Linked DNA regions of Homo sapiens: regions 1, 2, 3 and 5 are each linked to region 4. Evidence: fine-mapped expression QTL. A gene starts in region 4. Each other region holds a variant in brackets. All regions are shown on one strand. Distances are from middle to middle. Region 1 overlaps NAP1L4 (nucleosome assembly protein 1 like 4). Region 2 has its middle 8.6 kb from the start of PHLDA2. Region 3 overlaps SLC67A1 (solute carrier family 67 member 1). Region 4 holds the start of NAP1L4 (nucleosome assembly protein 1 like 4). Region 5 overlaps NAP1L4 (nucleosome assembly protein 1 like 4).

Region 1 (4,115 bases), 25 kb after region 4:
GAAGGGCACTTTCTCTGACCAGGACCTCAGATGAGCAGTCCTGATCTCACAGTGAATGGTTTATTCACAGTGGGGCTTCCATGCTGTCTTTTGCAGTTCTTGGTGGAAAGCTGGGCGCTTCAGCCTGATCCAAAACTTTCAAATCAGTTCCTTTTACCTCTTGTAAAGCTCTGTTGTCTTGCCTGTGGGAAAGCCTATGAATAGATTCCAGAGCCCATCTCTGTCTTCCTGTGGTGTGAGTGTGCAGGAAAGGGTGAGGGCAGGAGACCAGAGCAGAATGAATTTTGAAGGGATGAGCTGTGTGTTTGTTTGTGTGTGTGTGTGTACACACACATCTCAGTGAATTTTTGAACAAGTTGCTAATATTTTCTGATCATTTCTCTTGAAAAAGTGTCTATTTTTTTTAAAAAAAGAGGCCAGGCATGGTGGCTCATGTCTGTAGTCCCAGCACTTTGGGAGGTCAAGGTAGGCAGATCGTTTGAGACCAGCCTGGGCAGCATCGCGAAATCCCATCTCTACAAAAAATAGAAAAGTTAGCTGGGCGTTGTGGTGTGCGCCTGTGGTCCCAGGTACTTGGGAGGCTGAGGCAGGAGGATCACCTGAGCCGAGGAGGTTGAGGCTGTGGTGAGCTGTGATCACGGTGCTGCACTCCATCCTGGTGGGTGACGAGACCCTGTCTCCAAAAAAAAAAAAAAAAAAAAACAACACAACAACAAAACCCAACCACCATTTCTGATTTTGTCTTGCCTTGACATTTCACTTTCTGTAGTGAAATGGTGAACAAATTAAAAGGTAACAAATTTGGTTTTCCCTGAAATGAGTTATAATAGAAGTTTCTAGAACAGAGAAACAAATCTTGCCTTAAGTCTCACTGACTGACTTGCCGTCAGTTTTTATTGCTCCAGCGTCCCCAGAAACAGCACGTCTGCATTCAGACTTGCTCAGGACAGCTGCAGGCTCTGCTTGTGTGGGCAGAGTGCTTCTCCCATCACAGAGCATAGGCACTGTGCGTTGCAAACTGCTACATTGTAATTTGCACAGGATTTTACAGCTACGGTTTTTAATGGTTTTCACAAATGTATCACATTGCTGCCTCTGCTACCTCCCTTGTTTAATGCTTGTCCTGTGTCCTAAGCCAAAACTTGAGAAAAGATGGAAAGAATGATGTATTTCTTATTCTCCTTCCAGACCAGAAAGCATCTAAAATAGAACAGCCTTGGTTTTTCCTGATCTGAGCTTCCTTTTCATATGAAAAGGTGGAATTTAAGAAGACTAGACCATACTTTTAAAAGAATGCCATGCACCAGAATTTCATTGGAAAAATTAAGTAATGTCTACCAGAGCCGTAGTCTCACCCTGTGTATTACAATCACCTGAGCAGCTTTGAAAACTAAATAGCAAAAACTAAATGCCTCATCTGTCACCATGGCACTGAGAGTTTTGAGTTGGTTTTAGGAACTCTAATGTGCACCCTGAGAGTTGAAAATCTCCATGGCAGGGAGCAGGTGGAAAGACTAGCTCTTAGTTCGTTCTTCTCAGACTTCGGGGGGCATGGGGAGTGGCCATGGCAGTGCGGATTCTGGTTCTGTGGGGCTGTCTGGCTCATGGGCCCTGGGGTGATTCTTGCACTGCAGGGTTGGAGCATCTTCACGTGGGATTGGGGGTGCAGTGATAACAGGGTTTGGGAGCTAGAGTTAGGTGACTTGAGTGAGTTTTGGTGTCCCCTTCTGTGCGTGTGGCCACCTGGTTATGGCATTGGGGTCACTGGCCATGGATAGTGCTGCCTTGGGTTTTGAGAGCACAGTGAGGCATTTGGCCACATTTTAAATGGGGTGTCCCTTCTCATTCTCCCAGCACCTCTGTAGTAGTGTCAGTGCTTCAGCATTTCAGCCATGAAGTGTCTTTTGTTGCTTTTTGTTTTAACAGCTTTAAAAAGATATGCAGGGGTTGATAGAGTACTCATTTAATATGCAGAGAATGAGGAAATGTTATTTGTACTGTTTGTAACCTCATAGCAGGTAATGGTAGCATATTCTATTTTGATTTTTTTTTTTAACAATATTTTCTTTTTTTT[T/C]TTTTTTTAACGGAGTCTCGCTCTGTCGCCCAGGCTGGAGTGCAGTGGCGTGATCTTGGCTCACTGTAAGCTCCACCTCCTGGGTTCACGCCATTCTCCTGCCTCAGCCTCCCGAGTAGCTGGGACTACAGGCATCCGCCACCACGCCTGGCTAATTTTTTTATTTTTAGTAGAGACGGGGTTTCACTGTGTTAGCCAGGATGGTCTCGATCTGCTGACCTCATCATCCGCCTGCCTTGGCCTCCCAAAGTGCTGGGATTACAGGCGTGAGCCACCGTGCCCGGCCAACAGTTGTTTTTTAATGTCTGGTTTTGAAGTCTGCCATTTCTGAGAGAAGCCCTTTCATTTTTAAGGGACATGGTCTTGCTATGATGCCCAGCCTAGAGGTCAGTGGCTTTTCATAGGCACAGTCAGGACACTGCTGTCTCAGTCTCCTGGCCTCAAGGGGTCCTCTCGAGTAGCTGGGACTGTAGATATGCGCCACTATGCCCAGCTCATTTTGGTCAAATATTAAATTCCAAAGGCGGATTAACTCTGAGTCCCTTTGTTCTAAATTTGGGGATAGTTGAAATATATTTCTGCAAGGAGAGTGGAAAATTTGAGATGGTGGCTTTACGATCTGAGTGCGATGCCTCCAGTGTTGTGCCTTTGCTTCCTGAGTCTGAGCGTCTGCCAGTGTGGGGCATTACCTTAATATTTGCCCTGGACATTTAAAGTTTTGACCCACAGGGTACATGGCTGCTTGAGGAAATTAGAACATAATGGTTATTTTATGAAGTTTGGGAAAACATGAGTGGGCACTGCGTCTTTGAGTGGGATGAGTTTGAAGTCCCAGTGCCATCTCTGGAAAGCATGCTGGTGGAAGTGCTCATCTTGGTGATCTAGAGCCAGCGCATGCTTCTGTGGGTGGCACGCGCAGCATTGGAGACTGAACATCGCATGCAGGTGTGGCCCATTTCACAACTGCCTTTGGGTTACTTTTTGTCTAGATACTTGCAGGTATCTTTTTGTTGCTGTTTTTGTTTTGTTTTATGTCAGAAGAGTTGAAAATTAGGACTCAACGGAAAATCAGGCACAGAAAGGGGGGAAATACCTCACGTTCACACTCATGTGGGAGCTACAAAAACAGCTCACCGAAGCAGAGAATTGTTGATAAAGGCTAAGAGGGAGAGAGAGGGGAGGATAAATAGGGAGAGGTCTGTTATCAGATACAGAGTGACTGCTAGATTGGAGGAGTAAGTTCTGGTGTGTTGTAGCACTGTAGGGTGAATGTGGCTAACGATAATTTAGTGCGTGTTTTCAGAAAGCTAGAGGACGGGTTTTGAATGTTCAAAAATAAATGTTTGAGGTGATGGTCCTGATTTATTACACATTGTGTACGTGCATCAAAATGTCACTGTGTCCCATAAATAGTACAATTATTACATACAACTAAAAAAGAGAAAAAATGATTTAAGAAAAACTTAATGCAACTTCAAGACATTTTGAGATTCAGTGCCCAGACTTTGGGGGTAAAGAAGTGACTGCCATGTTACAAATGAAGTGCCTGCTGCCAGTGCGTGTTTCTGAGGATTCAGGTCTTCCCACTCCTCTTCTGACTTTCCTCACTGGGACTTTCTAAGCTGACAGGTATTGGCAAAATGAGTTTAAAGAAATATCACTTGTAAAATGATACAGACACAGATAAGAATTGTACGCTCTTCCATGATGCCCACTCTTCCATGGTGCCCGCAAGTTGGATCTCAGACACGCTCTGTGTAAGTGTTCTTAAAGAAGTAACCGTGTGTGGCCGGGCGCGGTGGCTCACGCCTGTAATCCCAGCACTTTGGGAGGCCGAGGTGGGTGGATCACAAGGTCAGGAGATCGAGACCATCCTGGCTAACACGGTGAAACCCCGTCTCTACTAAAAATACAAAAAATTAGCCGGGCATGGTTGGCGGGTGCCTGTAGTCCCAGCTGCTCGGGAGGCTGAATCCGGGAGGCGGAGCTTGCAGTGACCAAGATCACACCATTGCACTCCAGTCTGGGCAACAGAGCCAGA
Region 2 (4,115 bases), 54 kb after region 4:
TGCTTCTCCATAGTTCTCCCTTGTGAGGCCCACCTGGGTAGTCCAGGGGAAGCTCCTGCTCTCAGGGGCCTTTCCTATATCACACCCTAGCCACTAAGGTCATGTTCACCCATTTGCCATCAAAGGTAACATTCGTGGGTTTCAGGGAGTAGAACATGGATATGTCTTATTGGGGGCCACCATTCAGTCCATGAAAGGGGTCTTTCAAACAGACCAAAGCACATGAAGAGGGGAAAAGACAGCCACGCCAAAGGCCACAGACACCCAGAGAGATGGCTGCCCCCACCCCAGGGATAGAGAAATGTGTGTGAAGACCTCAGTTTTTGACCACCAGATTGTGGGGTTTTGTTGTTGTTGTTGTTGTTGTTTTGTTCGTTTGTTTGGTTGTTTGGTTTTTCCTGAGACAGGGTCTCACTCTATGGCCCAGGCTGGAGTGCAGTGACACTTTCTCAGCTCACTGCAACCTCTACCTCCCAGGGTGAAGCAATTCTTCTGCCCCAGCCTCCCGAGTAGCTGGGATTACAGGTGCATGCCACTGCACTAGGGTAATTTTTTCTATTCTTAGTAGAGACAGGGTTTCACCATGTGGGCCAGGCTGGTCTCAAACTCCTGAACCCAAGTGATCCACTCACCTTGACCTCCCAAAGTGTTGGATTACAGGCGTGAGCTATTGCCCAGATTGACTTTTTTTTTTAAGTACAGAGTGCCCACCATTGGCCTAGCCATGGGGAGATTGGCATTGCAGCCCTTGGGGGAAAGGGTGAATAGGAACAGCCCCACTGGCAGGCCATTTTGGCAGTTACCACACATCTGAGGGCCTTGCTAGCCCAGCAGTGCCATGTCTGGTGTGCAGGAAGGCAGTGCCATGTAAGATGACAGCAACAGGGACCCAGCCCAAGCCCAACCATCACAAGGGGTGGCTGAGACATGGAGGATTCCAGATAATGAGGGCTGGGGTGGGGGGTTCCTGGAAGATGGCCCAGACAGAGGAAGAGACACAAGCTCATACCCCCGCCTGCATGGATATTCATATGTAAATGCATTTTTAAAACTGGTAAAGGGTACATCACAAGTTACATTCTTAACCATTTTTTAAAGTGCACAGTTCAGTGCCACTAAGCATAGTTACACTAAGCATATTCACACAGCATATTCACACTAAGCGTATTCACAGCGTATTCACACTAAGCATATTCACACCGAGCATATTCACACCGAGCATATTCACACTAAGCGTATTCACACTAAGCATTTTCACACTGAGCATATTCACACAAAGCATATTCACACAAAGCATATTCACACCGAGCATATTACAAGCATATTCACACCAAGCATATTCACACCGAGCATATTCACACCAAGCATATTCACACTAAGCGTATTCACACTAAGCATTTTCACACTGAGCATATTTACACCGAGCATATTACAAGCATATTCACACCACACCGAGCATATTCACACCGAGCATATTCACACCGAGCATATTCACACTAAGCGTATTCACAGCGTATTCACACTAAGCATATTCACACCGAGCATATTCACACTAAGCGTATTCACACTAAGCATATTCACACTAAGCGTATTCACACTAAGCGTATTCACACTAAGCATTTTCACACTGAGCATATTCACAGCATATTCACACAAAGCATATTCACACCGAGCATATTACAAGCATATTCACACCAAGCATATTCACACCGAGCATATTCACACCAAGCATATTCACACTAAGCGTATTCACACTAAGCATTTTCACACTGAGCATATTCACACCGAGCATATTACAAGCATATTCACACCACACCGAGCATATTCACACCGAGCATATTCACACCGAGCGTATTCACACTAAGCGTATTCACACCGAGCATATTCACACCGAGCATATTCACACCGAGCGTATTCACACTAAGCGTATTCACACTAAGCATTTTCACACAAAGCATATTCACACAAAGCATATTCACACCGAGCATATTACAAGCATATTCACACCACACCGAGCATATTCACACCGAGCATATTCACACCGAGCGTATTCACACTGAGCGTATTCACACTAAGCATTTTCACACAAAGCATATTCACACAAAGCATATTCACACCGAGCATATTACAAGCGTATTCACACCAAGCGTATTCACACC[G/AAGCGTATTCACACTG]AGCATTTTCACACAGCATATTCACACCGAGCGTATTCACACCGAGCGTATTCACACCGAGCATATTCACACTGAGCATATTCACACTGAGCATATTCACACCGAGCATACTCAGCATATTCACACTGAGCGTATTCACACTGAGTATATTCACACTAAGCATATTCACACTGTCATGCAGCCGCCATCAGCATCTGCCTCCATGATTTCTCATCTCCCCAAATGGAAACTGTGTCCCTATTAAACTCCCCATTGTCCTCTCCAGCTCCTGGCACCTGCCCTCCTACCTTCTGTCTCTGAATCTGACGACTCTTGGGACCTGGTACATGTGGAATCATTCAGTACTTGTCTTTTTGTGTCTGGCTTATTTCACTCAGCATAGTGTCCTCAGAGTCCATCCGTGCTGTAGCTTGTGTTAGAATTCCCTTCCTTTTTTTTTTTTTTTTTTTTGAGATGGAGTTTCACTCTTGTTGCCCAGGCTGGTGTGCAATGGTGCAATCTTGGCTCACCGCAACCTCCGCCTCCTGGGTTCAAGCGATTCTCCTGCCTCAGCCTTCCAAGTAGCTGGGATTACAGGCAGGCATCACCACGCCTGGCCAATTTTTCAGGTGATCCACCTGCCTTGGCCTCCCAAAGTGCTGGGATTACAGGTGTGAGCCACGTGCCCGACCAGATTTCCCTTCCATTTTAAGGCAGTGACTATTCAGTGTGTGTGTGGACCACATCGTGTGTGCCCATTGTCAGTGGATACTTGGTGGCTTCTACCTTTTGGCATGCTGCTGGGAATATGGGTGTGCATGGATCTCTAGGAGAGACTCTAACTTTTAGTTCTTGTGAGCATGTGAATGAGAAGTGGAATTGTTGGATCACAGGGCAATCCTATATTTAATTATTAAAGGAGGTTGGGTGCTGTGGCTCACTCCTGTAATCCCACCACTTTGGGAGGCCAAGGCAAGTGGATCACCTGAGGGCAGGAGTTCAAGACCAGCCTGGACAACATGGTGAAACCCCATCTTTACTAAAAATACAAAAAAATTAGCCGGGCGTGGTGCCACATGCCTGTAGTCCCAGCTACTCAGGGGGCTGAGGCAGGAGAATCACTTGAACCCAGGAGGCGGAGGTTGCAGAGAGCCAAGAACGTGCCACTGCACTCTAGCCTGGATGACAGAGTGGGACTCCGTCTCAAAAACAAACAAACAAAAATCAATTGTTAAAGGAAATGTAAATGCTTTTTTAAAAAGGATGAGGCCAGGCACAGTGGCTCACACCTGTAATTCCAATACTTTGGGAGGATGAGGCAGGCGGATTGCCTGAGCCCAGGAGTTCAAGACCAGCTTGGGAAACACAGTGAGACCCCATCTCTACAAAAAATATACAAAGTAGCCAGGCATGGTGGCATGTGCCTTGTAGTCCCAGCTACTCAGAAGGCTGAGGTGGGAGGATCACAACCTCAGGAGGTCAAGGCTGCAGTGAGCCATTATTGCACCACTGCACTCCAGTCTGGGTGACAGAGCAAGACCCTGTCTCAAAAATTTATAATAATAATAAAACAAAAAGAGGCCAGGCTCAGTGGCTCATGTCTGTAATCTCAGCACTTTGGGAGGCTGACATGGGTGGATTGCTTGAGCTCAGGAGTTCAGGACCAGCATGGGCAACACGGTGAAACCCTGTCTCTACAAAAATACAAAAAATTAGCTGGGTATGGAGGTACACACCTGTGGTCCCAGCTACTCAGGAGGCTGAGGCGAGAGGATTGCTTGAGCCTGGGAGGCGGAGGTTGCAGTGAGCCAAGATCACGCCACTGCACTCAGTCTGGGCAACAGAGCAAGACCCCATCTCAAACAAACAAACAAAAAAGGATGAGAGTGGCCCTAGGTGGGGACATGAGAGATGAACACTCAATTTTGTTTTTATTATTTTTTTTTTTTTTTCATTTTTTCTTGCTCTGTTGCCCAG
Region 3 (4,115 bases), 76 kb after region 4:
GCCTATTCTCCATCCTGCTTCCTGGCTTCTCAGTTAGAGGAGTCCAGGCGGGGCTTCTGAGGGACAGGGCTGCTCGTGGGCTTGTCCGTGGCTCGCTATCCTATCTGTGGTCCGTGACGCCCTACGGTCTGCTGAGAGGGCCCAGGGCCAGCATGCTGCAGAAGGCAGTGGTGACACTCAGACCTGCTGTCCCTGCATCTCAGGCTGTCTGGAGAGGACGTGGGGCCACAGGGTATGAGGGTAAGAGCTGAGGAGCACACAGGGATGCATGGCTGCGAGCCAGGCCCTCTGCCCGTGGGGGCCCACCCTGGGATCTGCAGGTGTGCAGTGTAGAGGGGCTGGAAGGAGGTGGGAAAGACACTTTTCTGCCTTCCTCCCGCTCCTGCCTGCTCTACCACATCTGTGTGGACCTGTGGGGCACAGGCCAGAGGAAGGGCCGGGCCCTGGCCGCAGCTGGGACTCTGCCAGGCTCTGGCCGCTGTTGGGGCAGTAGTTGGGACTCACCTGTGGGGCAGTTGGAGGCCACCTTCACCAGGAAGATCCTCGGGACGTCTGGCAGCCGCAGCAGGGAGGCGATGGCCTTCAGGTCGAACACACTGGCCCGGGGGCCGCCTGGCACGGAGAGGCCATTCAGGCCTGCAAAGGCCATTGTCCCAATGCCCACCCCTCGCCCGGCTGCAGGCCTCGCCATTCGGAGGGCCCTGTTGCGCCCGCCAGGGTAAAGCTTCCTTCCTTGGCTTCAGCACCGCTCACTTGTGGGAATGGGAGCTGGTGATGCTCCCAGCTGCCAGGTTGGGCACCGCCCCTCAGCACACTTCTACGCATTCCTAGGGGCCCCCTGAATCCCCAGAGGCACTTAGGAAAAGCATTCTCTGCACGCAGGTAGACTGGCCTCAACCTGGGCATGCAGTGGCGGAGGCCTGCGGCAGTCCCTGAACAAGGGACCAATAGCTGCTTCCTATATGGTCCTGGCCTGGGGCCTGGGGCAGAGCATGACCAGGCCACCAGCCCAGAGGAAGACAATGGCAATACTGTACCACTCTCTGTGGCCACAAGTCACCGCCGTGGCCTGGCCCACCGGGCACCTCTGAGTGCGAAGCCACAGGCCCCCAGCCCGGCTCACCGAGTCCTTCCTCCTTATTGTCTCAGGGGCTCCTGCCTCTCTGGCTCTGCTGTGCTCGCCACAGGCCCATCTCCACCCGGCCCTCCCCCTGGACTTTCTAGGTTAATTCCATGACAGCCTCCTGCCCCAGGATGGTCCCAGGTGGGTCCCTCTGGCCCAGGCTGGGCTCTTAGTCCCTAGGCACCGAGGCATGGGCCCTGCCACGTGCCTGGCACAAAGGGGCTGCGTTCAGCAGGGGGCCAGCCTTGAGGGGACCCCCTCTGAGGAGCCTTGGCCTCTCCTCATGGGACCAGCCTGACCATCCTCTGCCCTCCACCAATGAGTGCCCCTCGGGCAGCACCCTCGCCTCTCCCTGGACACTCAGAGCTTCCGGAGCCTTGCTGGCCCACCCACCCCATTGGGGGGGTCCCTCCTGGTCCTCCCCAGGCCTCTCTGGGCCTCCCCTCCTAGCACCTTCCCTGTCTGGGCCTCCCCTCCTAACGCCTTCCCTGTCTGGGCCTTCCTGCCTCTCTGGGCCTCCCTGCCTGCCGGAGCCCCACTTCCACCTCTTCATGACCACACCTCACTTGGCTTCTATGATGTCAGCAGCTGGGAAGGGTTCAAGGAAGGCAGGAGGGTGTGAGTAGCCCCCAGATTTCCCCTCAGGCCCCCCGTACCCCTTGGCTGGAGCACGCAGGCCTAGCCAATGCCTTCCATTGCCCCAGCATCTGGGCAGGGTGTACCTGGCGGGGCTTACCTGGCAGTGGAGCCTGGGCGTCAGTTTTGGCCCCTTTGGTGCTGGCGGGGATGCAGGTGAAGCTGAGGACAGCTCCCAGGAGGGTGGCCAGGGCAGCCAGGATGGCCGGGCACTGAATCCTGCGGGCAACAGCCTCGGCTGCACAGGGTGCGGGTCCCAGGGCCCAGGCGCCCCAGCCACATCCCCCAACCTGCA[C/A]CTTTGGTTGCACTAAAATAGCTTAAATCTGACCTCCCACATCCCCACAGTCTGTGGCCTAAAGAGTGGGGACTGGGACCCTCAGAGCACATTTATTAGGTGATGGATGAAGGAATGGGTGGGGCGCTCACCATCCCTGACCCTCGCCACGCCATGCAGGCCCCGGCAGCCCCTGTGGGTAGCAGCTGTGGAAGCCAGGCTGGTGAGCGCCTGGGGCAGGTGGCGGATCCTCCCAGGAACAGCAGCTCCCACGCTGGCCAAGGTCAGGAGAGGCTCCAAAGGGCAAGCCTGGTGTGCATGTCCCTGGGAGGGGCTCTCCGAGACCTGGGCACCTGTGCTGTGTCATGGGGATGGCTATGCTGCCTCCCCAGCGTGGGCAAGGGTGGGCCTGGCATTCAGCAGGCCCTCAGAAACCGACCCCCCTCCTGTTGGCCCCTCCCCACTTTCTAGAGTGTGGGGCATGCTGGGCTTGGAGGGGGCTTTGGGCTGGGATCCCAGAGCCTTGCAAAGCCCCGGAGGTGCCCCTCAGGCTGCTTTGCCACCTTCCCACCTTCCTGGGCCACTACCAAGGCCTGGGACTCTGGCTGTACCGTCAGCTTCCCTGCCATGAGTCCCCACCTGGAAACTTGGCCTGTGATTCCCCTGGAAGGAATCGGCAGGTCTTGTCTCCTGGGGACGGAGGCACCTGAAGCTGGCTGTTCCAACTGTCACCATTGCCTCCTGGGGGCTCAGCCAGCCCCCTCCCCTCAGGGAGAGACAGGAGGAAGTTGGGGCTTCCTACTGAGCTCGTCTGTAAGGCCTCCAGGCCTGTGCCGGACCGCCACGGCCTTCCTCTCAGCAGCTGAGCAAACTCCTATACAGCCTGCAAGGGCCCTTCTTGGTGAGGCCCCAGCCCTCCTTCCCAGACAGCATGCCATCTGAGAAGGACTCGCTTTACCAGCTGGCTAGAATCTGGCCCCTGAGGGCAGGTGGTCCAGGGTTGGACCCTGCGCGGAGACCGCAGTGATCATTAGATGATCGGACAAATGTGTGAGCCATTCACACACGCAGCACAAGTTCTGCCCCAACCTCAACAGATCCTCCAAATCTGCCCTGGCCAGGGCCTCAGGGCACAGGCACCCAGTAGGGGTCAGGGTCCTGGAAGATGCCCTTGCACCCAAAAACAAGGCCAGCCACAGGCCACCATGTCCCCACCAAGGAGTTCAAAGAAAGGACTTTCCTCGCCCCTCTTCACCGCAGCCACATGCGCACACACACACACACACGGGCAAACTTGTACACACACTTACCTGCATCCGTTTGCCAGAGCAAGGAGGGGACTTGGAGCCACACTGACTAGGACAGTCAGTGGGGCCACCTCTGAGTCCAGAGAGTCTGGGCATTGGCCACCCCTCATTTCTGAGGTGGGACCCCTAAGCTCACATCAGTCTAGGGGGGTGCTGGCATATCCACCCCACCTGTGCTGCTGCCCCCGCCAATCCATCAGGGCAGCTCCGACTCCTGCAGCACCCACCGCCCAGGACGTCAGCTACTCAGGTTTTCTGGCTGCTGGGGTTCCGCACGAATGGGCCCTTCCTTTGGGAAAATGCCAGGGAAGGGGAACGGCTGGGCTCGGGCGCCACAGCTTGTCCCTCCAGCCAGCAGGCACAGATGTATGGCGCAGGAGGGACAACTGGCCCCTGTGGCCAGCCCCAGAGAGACGGGCCCTTTCTTTGGGACCCTGGCCTCAGAGGCCTGCGTGTCACAGCTCAGGGTCTGGCTGGGCAGGGGCAAAACCTGCCTTATTTGCCAGATGTCCCAGAAGTACACAGGAGCAGACGCACCACTTCGATGGCTATTTTAGGAGGCTGGTGACAAGCAAGGCATGGTGGCAGGAAGCCAGGCCCTCGAGCGGTGGTGGGTAAACCAAAGGCCTGTGCTGCTGTGGGCAACAGGAAAGCCTGGGGCTGGGGGACCCTGGAGGGCCCCAGGAGGTAGGGAGTCAGGTCCCACCACTGTGCCAGGGGCCGTGGGTGGCTGCTGGGGGAGACGCAGGCTGTCCTTCCCCAGTCACAGCTCTCC
Region 4 (4,115 bases):
CCCATTACTGCAAATGGTCTTGAGACTTTATTAGATGGGAGGAAGGACCCTCCAAACTTCAAATGCCCAGGTTCTTGTGTCATTTCTATCATTGTTTATGCTTCCGCAAAGCATAAAGCATGACCTTTGTAGAAAAGTCTGAAAGTCTAAATAAGTAAAATAGGAATTGAGAGCACACACACCCTCTCCTAAAACACAGATGGCCAGACAGGACTGAGCACGCTGTGTGGGTCAGGCCTCAGCCATGCACCGGTCACCTCTGAGGGGTTTTTATGTTTTTTGTTTTAATTAGTTTTTTTTTTATTTTTTATTTTTTGAGATGGAGTCTCGCTCTGTCGCCCAGGCTGGAGTGCAGTGGTGCGATCTCGGCTCACACTGTAAGCTCCGCCTCCCGGGTTCACGCCATTCTCCTGCCTCAGCCTCCCGAGTAGCTGGGACTAGGGCGTCCGCCACAATGCACGGCTAATTTTTTTGTATTTTTAGTAGAGACGGGGTTTCACCGTGTTAGCCAGGATGGTCTCGATCTCCTGACATCGTGATCGGCCCACCTCGGCCTCCCAAAGTGCTGGGATTACAGGCTTGAGCCACCGCGCCCGGCCTTTTTTTTGTCTTTTTGAGACAATGTCCCCCTCTGGTTACCCAGGCTGGAGTGCAGTGGCCCAATCTCTGCTCACTGCAGCCTTGACCTCACGGGCTCAGGTAATTCTCCCACCTCAGCCTCCCAAGTAGCTGGTATTACAGGCCTGAGCCACCACGCCTGGGTAATTTTTTGTTGTTGTTGTTTTTGGAGCAGGGGAAGGGTGCTCTATGTTGCCCAGGCTGGACTTGTTGCCTCTGCCTCCCAGAGTGCTGGGTTTACAGGCCTGAGCCACGGCGCTCCGCATTAATTTCTTTTTAGAGATGAGGTTTCACTATGTTGCCCAGGCTGGACTTGAATTTCTGGGCTCAAGGAATCCTCCTGCCTCAGCCTCCCAGCTTACCTCTGAGGTTTATAACCGACGCTATGTTCTTAATCCCTCAACCAGGAGCCTTTAAATGGTTTCAAATTTTCCCCATTACAGGAATAACTTGCTAATAATAATAATAATTAGCAATTGTTTCAAAAGTAACGTCATCCCAAAAGAGAACGTTTCTGAAAAAAATGCACATTAGACTTGAAGACCCCCAATGGCACGGTTGAACATGGAAATGAACCAGCCTCAAAAGTCCCAGCGTAGGGGTTATTTTCCAATCAAATTGGATGCCTTTCTACAAAATGTGATGTGCACAGGCTGGGGCTGGTACCTTCACCCCAGCCCAGAGGGCACCATGAGAGGGAGAACAGGGCGGGCGAAACAGGCCAGCTCCTCCCCAGCCCTCTGCCCTGCTCTGCTTCAGGGGGCTGATCTGAGGGCCCAGTGCGCACTGCTTTTCCTCCTTGTCCGACAGGGTCTCCCGCAGGCCAGAACTAGGCTGCTGGGACACTGCGGGGCTCAGGGCGTGGGGGAAGAGATGCAGGCAGTGGCTAGTCCCGTCCTGTCCGCGGAGGTGACCCAGCCCCGACCTCTTCGCAGAGGAAGTGTTCTCCAACCTGGGACCTGGGGGATGAGCGGGGGTTAGGCTTACGTCCCAACCACTAACGGGGCTGGTTGAAAACGGCTCCCAGGCGGAGGGGCCCTCCGCGATGTTCTCAAGGAGTAGCGCGAGGGGACGACATGGGAGGTGGGGTTCTCACATCAGCGGGCGCACGGAGTGCTGGAGGCACCGACCCGCCGCGGACGGGATTGAACTAGGGAACTGGGAGGGCGCAGGAGATAAAGACGGCTGGGGCCGGGGCCCACGGAGAGGGGTGGTGCCCAGTGTCCCGCGAGGATGTGGTGCCACCCGGGGAAGGTCCCGGGAGCGGGGACCCGGGACCCCCCGGAACCACACACGCGGTCTCCACCTTGCCCCGCCCCATTTAAAGAGGCGGAGGAACGCAGGGCGCGCGCCGCGCGGAGGAATATTTGCATATGGCGCGGCGTTTCTTCGGAGGCTTGTGATTGGTTGCTGACTGCGGCGCGAAGCGCAGTTGACTTGCGCCGCGCTCGGCGAATCGCAGCCTGTCTTGCTCGCGGAGAGAGGAGCTAGGAGCCTCGGCCAATGGGAGCCGGCGTTGTTGGAGGCCACGGCGGCGCAGCCCCAAAGCGAGCGAAGCTAGGGTCGCCGCCACTGCCGCAGGAGGCGTGAGGTGCGGAGACACGGGTGCTGGGCCGGTAACGGCGCGCTGGGGAGGGCGGCCGGGCCCGGACGGGCGGGTGGGGCCGCGGGTCCGGCGCGGGCGCGGCGGCGGCCATCTCTGGAAGCCTCGGGGCGGTGGGGCAGGGGCGGGGCCGCGTTCTGGTCGGGGCAGGCAGCGGCGGCCGCGGCGGGGCCTGGGGCTTGGGGCCTGGAGCCCGGGCCTGGGGCGCTGGCGGGAGGCCCCTCCCAACTCCCGGCGCGCCTCGCCCGGCTGCCCGCCTCACTGAAGGTCAAGGCGCTTTGTTCTGCGCCGCGGGCGGCCTCCTGGGCGGCGGCCCCTTGGAGGAGGCGAAGACGGCGAGAGGCGGCGGCCGCTCAAATCTCCCGCTAGCCCAGCCCGCCCCGCGTGCGGGGGCTGTGGCGGTTACACGGCCGGGCGCGCCGGAGCGTTCAGGCTTCCCGTTTTTAAGGTGGAGACGTCCAGGACTTCTTTATTAGATGTTTAGGAATTTGAGTTTTTCCGTAGGGCGGTTGTCATCGTGAGCCTCTGTGGGGTCAGGCTGGGCTAACTGGGGTTTTGATGTCAGTTTGGTGTGGCCGAGGGCATGTCTGACGGGGAAGAAAGTCCTTGGCGTTGCTTCTTAGCTGTTGGGAGCTGTGCGGTGGGAGCGAGCTGGGCGGCGTGCGCTCCCCGAGGACTGGCCTGAGTGGCCTTAGACTAGTTACTCACGGGACTTGGTTTCCCAGCCAAGGTGGGCAGCAAGTCTGTTTACTATTTAAAACCGTCTTTCACAAGGGAAAAGCAAAATCTCCAAAAAAAAAAATTGTACATGTTATGGATGGGAAAGTGCCATGCTTTTCTTTCAGTTCAGAGATGGTGGAAGAGGTCACATTTGTATTTTTTGACCTGACCAGAGTCTTTGTTGTTTTCAATTTTCCCCTTCTGAATGCTTTCCGTTCACCCCAGCGAAGGATGGCCTGGTCATGATAAGACTTTCCACCGTCCACAGTTCTCTAAGTCTGATTGCGGGGCAGGAGGCAGACATGTTTAGGGTCCAGTAAAGGGGACTCCAGCCTTGGGACCTTTAGACCCTAACGTGTGTGTCACATCACCTGCCTGGGTGACTGTGCGCTCCTCTGGCAGGAAGGTCCGCCATTTCATTATGTTCTCGGAGGAATCGTCGGGGCACATTCGTCTGTGCTTTGGTTCGCATCCCCCAGTCTGCATTACTTTTTCCTGTAGTAACCCGTGCCTTATCCTCCTGCATTAGGTTTACGGGGTGAAAATAGACTTTTAAAAATTCTCTTACCTTAGAAATATACAAATATGTAGATTAGGTTGTTGGACCTTAAAGGTAAGTCTTTCTAAGTTACTACCTTCCTGTAATAGTAACTATACCTCTAAATGACTAATACCTGCACTGCGCACCAGGGACTCTTTCAGCCTGTTTGCGTGTGTTAACTCATTTCATAATCTAATAACCTGAGATAGATGCTATTGTTTTTCCATTTAACTACTCTGGAAGCTGAGGCCCTGGGAGGTTAGGTATAATGACTTGTCCGAGGTGACAAAGCTTAAAGACCCAGGCAGTTTTAACTGTACCCAGGGTTACTGCTTCTGTAGAGGGAATGAAAGAAGTTTTAATGAGAAATTGTTTTCATCATTGTGCTAAGCTTAACTGAACTCTAGCTTACGAGGTTTTGAGCTGGTTGATCATTTCCATCTCAAAATTCTCTTATTCCACAGAATGCCAAATGCCTCCTATAGTAGAATTTTGAGATTCAGACTGGGATGAGCAATTGCTAATGGAATAAATAATATGCAAATGTAAAATGAAGTTCAGAGAAAGCAACGTGGTGATAGAATGGGAAAGTAATCCAAAGATAAAATGAGTGACTACAGAGAGAGAGAAAAT
Region 5 (4,115 bases), 49 kb after region 4:
GGTGGGGGTCACTTGGCAAAAAGGGCCGAGGTCTGGTGATGTGGTTCCCAGGATCTGGAACCTCTCCCACCCCTCCTGCAGTTGGACTGAATTCTTCCCTTTCATCCGAAGAAACCCACTTGCTGTTTCCAGCCGCTGAATCTGCTGAGTGTGCAGCCTGCATCACCTGCTGTATGCCGATCATCTCAGAAAGGGCTGTGTAGAGTAGGGCCCTGTTCTCCTTAGGATGTTGCTTCTTGATTTTTTTTTTTTTTTAGGGGTGGGTCAGGGTTGTGACACACCAGCCCAGGTGAGAGCTGCTGCGGGTCACCTCATATTTATTTATCCCTTCTTGCCTGTGAGGACTGCGGCTTTTCGCTGTGGCTCGTCCTTAACGTTTCTGAACCACCTTGGTGCCCTGAGCAGGAAGATGTGCCACTTCCTAGCAGGCGCAAGGCCTGTGCGGAAGAAACGCCGCTCCCTGCCACCAGGGCTGAAGATGCGAGCCCGTCCTCATGACGCAGGCGCCACCCTGCTGCCGGAGCCGGGCTTCGGCAGTCTTCTCCACTGAGGGACTGGGCTGGGAAGTCCTGCGTTTCAGTGGAGCGTATGAGCGTCAAGTCCTGCTTTCTCAGTAGCCCCATTGCGGGGCCCCACCATTCATCCTGTCTGAAGGTCCTGGGTTTGGTGTGACCGCTTGGCGGCTGGTGGGTGGGGTTTTCAAGTGGGTGACGGCGCTCTCCGGCAGCCGGGGATGGCCGTGTCCGCACTGACCAGGCCTGTGGAGAGTGCTCGGCCTAACCTTAGAACACATTTGTAACTGAATACAGTGTTTTCAATTTGTACAGAATAGTTAGAATATTCTATTAAAGTGGTGAAACATTGAGTCAGCACTGTGCCATGTGGGTCTTTGCAGGGGAATGTGGTGGGGAAGGCTCAGATGTGCTGCACACCTGTTGGGCTCTGTTGAGCCCTGGGTATTGGTGGCTCCAAGACCGGTTGTACAGTTTACTTCTGAGGCCTTGAAAGCTCAGTTTGAGGCAGAGGCTGCTGTAGCCCCCCCACTACACCTAAGTTGCTGCTGTATGCAGGCAGCTTCACTGCGGGCCCAGGGGAAGACTGTTCCTGCCCCCAGGAGGGGATCATTTCTCAGAGTTAGTGGGACTGTGCTTTGTAGATCCAGAAGGCTCCAAGAGGAGAACTTCCTGATAAAGCCCATGTTAGGTGTGTTTGCTCTCTGAAGCTTTTCCCCGTGTCTCTTCCATCCACAATGAGAGGAGGCACTCAACACCTGCTGCACAGGCACTTCCTGACCTGACCGTGGGAATCCCAGCCTTGGCAGCGCCGCCTGGTGAATGAAACGCTGTCATGAGAAGGCAGCCGTGGAGCTGGCTCATTGCTCCCCACGTGGCTGGCCCCGCCCTGCTGCCTCCAGCTCACCCGTGGGCTGCCTTCTCTCTGGGAGCAGCAGGAAGGGCAGGTGCAGGCTGGGAAGTGAATGCTTGCAGCATACCCCCAAGGGCCGGGGAGCCTGATGTCTGTGCTTCCTGCACCCGTTCCTCCGTCCCCATCCTGTGAAGTACCTGGGGGAGCTTGGTCTCAGGCTCCCCAGCCTCAGGGTGGCCCCATGGGTGAGCAGCACCCTGGCCTTACTTGGTCTGCCCAGGGTCAGACCCCATAATCCAAGGGGCATATGCTGTTTTGCAGTGACCCGCCCTTCAGCTGCGGAGACAGCCCTGCACACTGCCCTGTCCACTGGGTGCCCAGAGTGCCTTTTTAGGAAGGGCTCCACAGGCTTGGGGAGTGCCCCTCACTACCTAGCTGGGTGGTTTTAGATCAGATTTGCACTTTTCGATCAGATTTGCACAAGCAGGGGAAAGGGCTTAACATTGTGGCTTCTGGGGGTGGGGGTATCTGGATTTTCCCTTTTGAGTAAGAAGTGTGTGAGAACCCTGCACCCACCTGCGTGCATCCTTCACTGAGCTGGGTTCCTGTGTCC[G/C]CCAGTGAGTCTGACCTTGGGAGTGCATGGTTCGTGGATGCTGCCCAGTTCCAAGGACATCTGGGTGCAGGACCTCAACGTGAAGCCTGGGGAGCTGTGGAGGCCCGAGGGTGCAGGCAACCTGGTCTCCCCCAGGACCTCAGCACCTCCGGCCTCTGTCACCCCTGCATGGCCGCCGTGTCCTGCCTGCACCCCAGGGTCTCAGAAAAGGGAAGGTCATTCTCCAGTGGCCAAGGAGCCCAGGAACCATCCCAGGCCCAGGCCATTGTCAGCTCAGGAACCTCAGCCATCAGTGGTCACCGAAAGTCGCTGAGTGGTTGAGAGGTTTGCCCAGAGCCACCATCTGGAAGGCAGCTGGGAAGTGGGGGCTTGTGGCGGCCGCCCAGCCTGGCCTGGGTGAAGGGTGGCTGCTTCCCTTCTGGTCCTGGAGGCCAGGGGGTCTGCCACAGAACCTCAGCTCTGCTAGCCCAGGCCCTCCTTTTTCCCGACTCAGCCCCTGGCTGGGGAGGCAGACATTCACCGTCCAGCCCCGCCCCACCCACCCCACCCCGCTTGGGGCTCCCCCAGCCCCTGCCCTTCCTGTGACTGTTCACCCTGTGCGGGAACTGAGACTCAAAACCAGTGGCGCTGGGGTCAGGGCAGGAGTTTGGGGAGCAGCCCGGGAGATGGGAGGTGGGGCCTGGGGCACCCCCACCCCCTGCACAGGTGGCTCAGACGCTTCTGTCAGCTGCCATCACACGGGTGCTCCTGGGCAAGGAGGGAAAGAACCCGCACGGCAAGCAGCCAGGCACAGAAGACCTGGAGGGCCCTGTTTCTGTCCGGTTCTAGAGCCTGCAAAGCTATAGTGCCGGTGACTGCCTGGGAGGGATCTGGGGTGGGGGGACTGACCAAGGAACGCTTTAGAGGGATGGAAGTGGTTACACAGGTGTATACGTCTGTCAGAATTCATTGAGTTACATCAAAAATGGGTATATTTGGTTGTATATAAGTTAGTCCTCAATGAAGCTCAGCGTTGTTTTTTTTTTTGAGACGGAGACTCGCTCCATTGCCCAGCCTGGAGTGCAGTGACACCATCTCGGCTCACTGCAATCTCCACCTCCCAGGTTCAAGCGATTCTCCTGCCCAGTCTCCCAAGTAGTTGGGATGACAGGCATGCACCACTGCACCTGGCTAATTTTTGTATTTTTAGTAGAGATGGGGTTTCACCATGTTGGCCAGGCTGGTCTCGAACTCCTGACCTCAGGTGAACTACCCACCTTGGCCTCCCAAAGTGCTGGGATTACACGTGTGAGCCACCGTGCCTGGCCTGAAGCTCAGTTTTCAGAAGTCCCCAAAACAGGGTGATTCCACTTAAAATTCTGTTTTTTCCCTTGAGTCAGGAGCTATGGCTCCCTAGAACCTGATGGCTGCTGCTTTCCCCAGCAGGGTCACCTGGGACCCTTGTCCACAGCTGCCTGGCGTGTGGGTCCGCGGGTGGTGTGTACCCCAGGTCAGCCTACCTGGCCAGTCTGCTCTCTAGGCTCATGACTCCCGTTTATGTGGAGCTGGGACCAAGCCGACATCCCACTCTGCTCCTGTCCTGCTGCCCAGCAAACCTCCCCAGGCCCAAGGGCCACCCATGGGGCCAGAGCCCCCTTCCCCAAGTCCCAGGTCCAGGGCTTCCTGCCACCCCACCCATCTTGTCCCACTCTCAAAATGCCCTAGGCTGCCCCCAGCCCCATCGCTGGGCAGGCTGAGTCAGCATGAGCTGCCAGGATCCAAGCTTGCCCCTGAGGTGGGAGGCAGGGGTGGGGTGGGTAGGGGGCAGCCAGCTGGCTCCACCAGCCAGCCAGGTGGGTAGGTGGAGCCCCTGGCCTCTGCCTGGCTCATCCAGGCACACCTTGATATTACTGACCTCTGACCTGCCCCTGCTGGGTCCTTGGCTTGCCTGGCTCTGAGTCAGGGCTCAGGGCTGGGCAACTGGTGAGCAACAGAGGAACAGCCAGGGGCAGCGGTGGGAGAAGTGACCGTCCCAGACTCAGCCAACTCCAGCTGCAGTGCCCTGAGGGAGCCCTGGGCCTGCAGAAGGGGTTGCTGTGTGCAGAAGCCTGTGGTTCCCTGCCAGCCAGGCCAGCCTGGCCACAGCCTGGCATGGACT

What was found. PIP is the estimated chance that this variant, and not a neighbour inherited with it, causes the effect.
Region 1: its variant is the best candidate, but not a certain one, in a credible set for the expression of NAP1L4 in whole blood (TOPMed, PIP 0.58).
Region 2: its variant is the best candidate, but not a certain one, in a credible set for the expression of NAP1L4 in activated naive CD4 T cells (Schmiedel 2018, PIP 0.84).
Region 3: its variant is the best candidate, but not a certain one, in a credible set for the expression of NAP1L4 in skeletal muscle (GTEx, PIP 0.57).
Region 5: its variant is the best candidate, but not a certain one, in a credible set for the expression of NAP1L4 in nucleus accumbens (GTEx, PIP 0.57).

The regions. Positions count from the first base shown.
Region 1 is chr11:2,965,576-2,969,690 of GRCh38, reverse strand. All of the region lies in intron 7 of NAP1L4 (nucleosome assembly protein 1 like 4), which reads left to right. Among named protein-coding and RNA genes, the nearest start is that of SNORA54, 3.7 kb to the right of the region's middle. RefSeq lists a silencer at 3,165-3,365 and an enhancer at 4,073-4,115. The variant T/C (reference allele first, on the strand shown) is at 2,075.
Region 2 is chr11:2,935,959-2,940,073 of GRCh38, reverse strand. No RefSeq gene overlaps it. Among named protein-coding and RNA genes, the nearest start is that of PHLDA2, 8.6 kb to the right of the region's middle. The variant G/AAGCGTATTCACACTG (reference allele first, on the strand shown) is at 2,160.
Region 3 is chr11:2,914,485-2,918,599 of GRCh38, reverse strand. It overlaps SLC67A1 (solute carrier family 67 member 1), which reads right to left. Exons shown (of 11, transcript NM_002555.6): 6 at 1,860-1,978; 7 at 505-612. Among named protein-coding and RNA genes, the nearest start is that of PHLDA2, 13 kb to the left of the region's middle. RefSeq lists an enhancer at 3,672-4,115. The variant C/A (reference allele first, on the strand shown) is at 2,055.
Region 4 is chr11:2,990,348-2,994,462 of GRCh38, reverse strand. NAP1L4 (nucleosome assembly protein 1 like 4) reads left to right here and starts at 2,134. Exons shown (of 16, transcript NM_005969.4): 1 at 2,134-2,209. RefSeq lists enhancers at 1,870-2,164, 2,709-3,565.
Region 5 is chr11:2,941,187-2,945,301 of GRCh38, reverse strand. It overlaps NAP1L4 (nucleosome assembly protein 1 like 4), which reads left to right. Exons shown (of 16, transcript NM_005969.4): 16 at 1-865. Among named protein-coding and RNA genes, the nearest start is that of PHLDA2, 14 kb to the right of the region's middle. The variant G/C (reference allele first, on the strand shown) is at 1,979.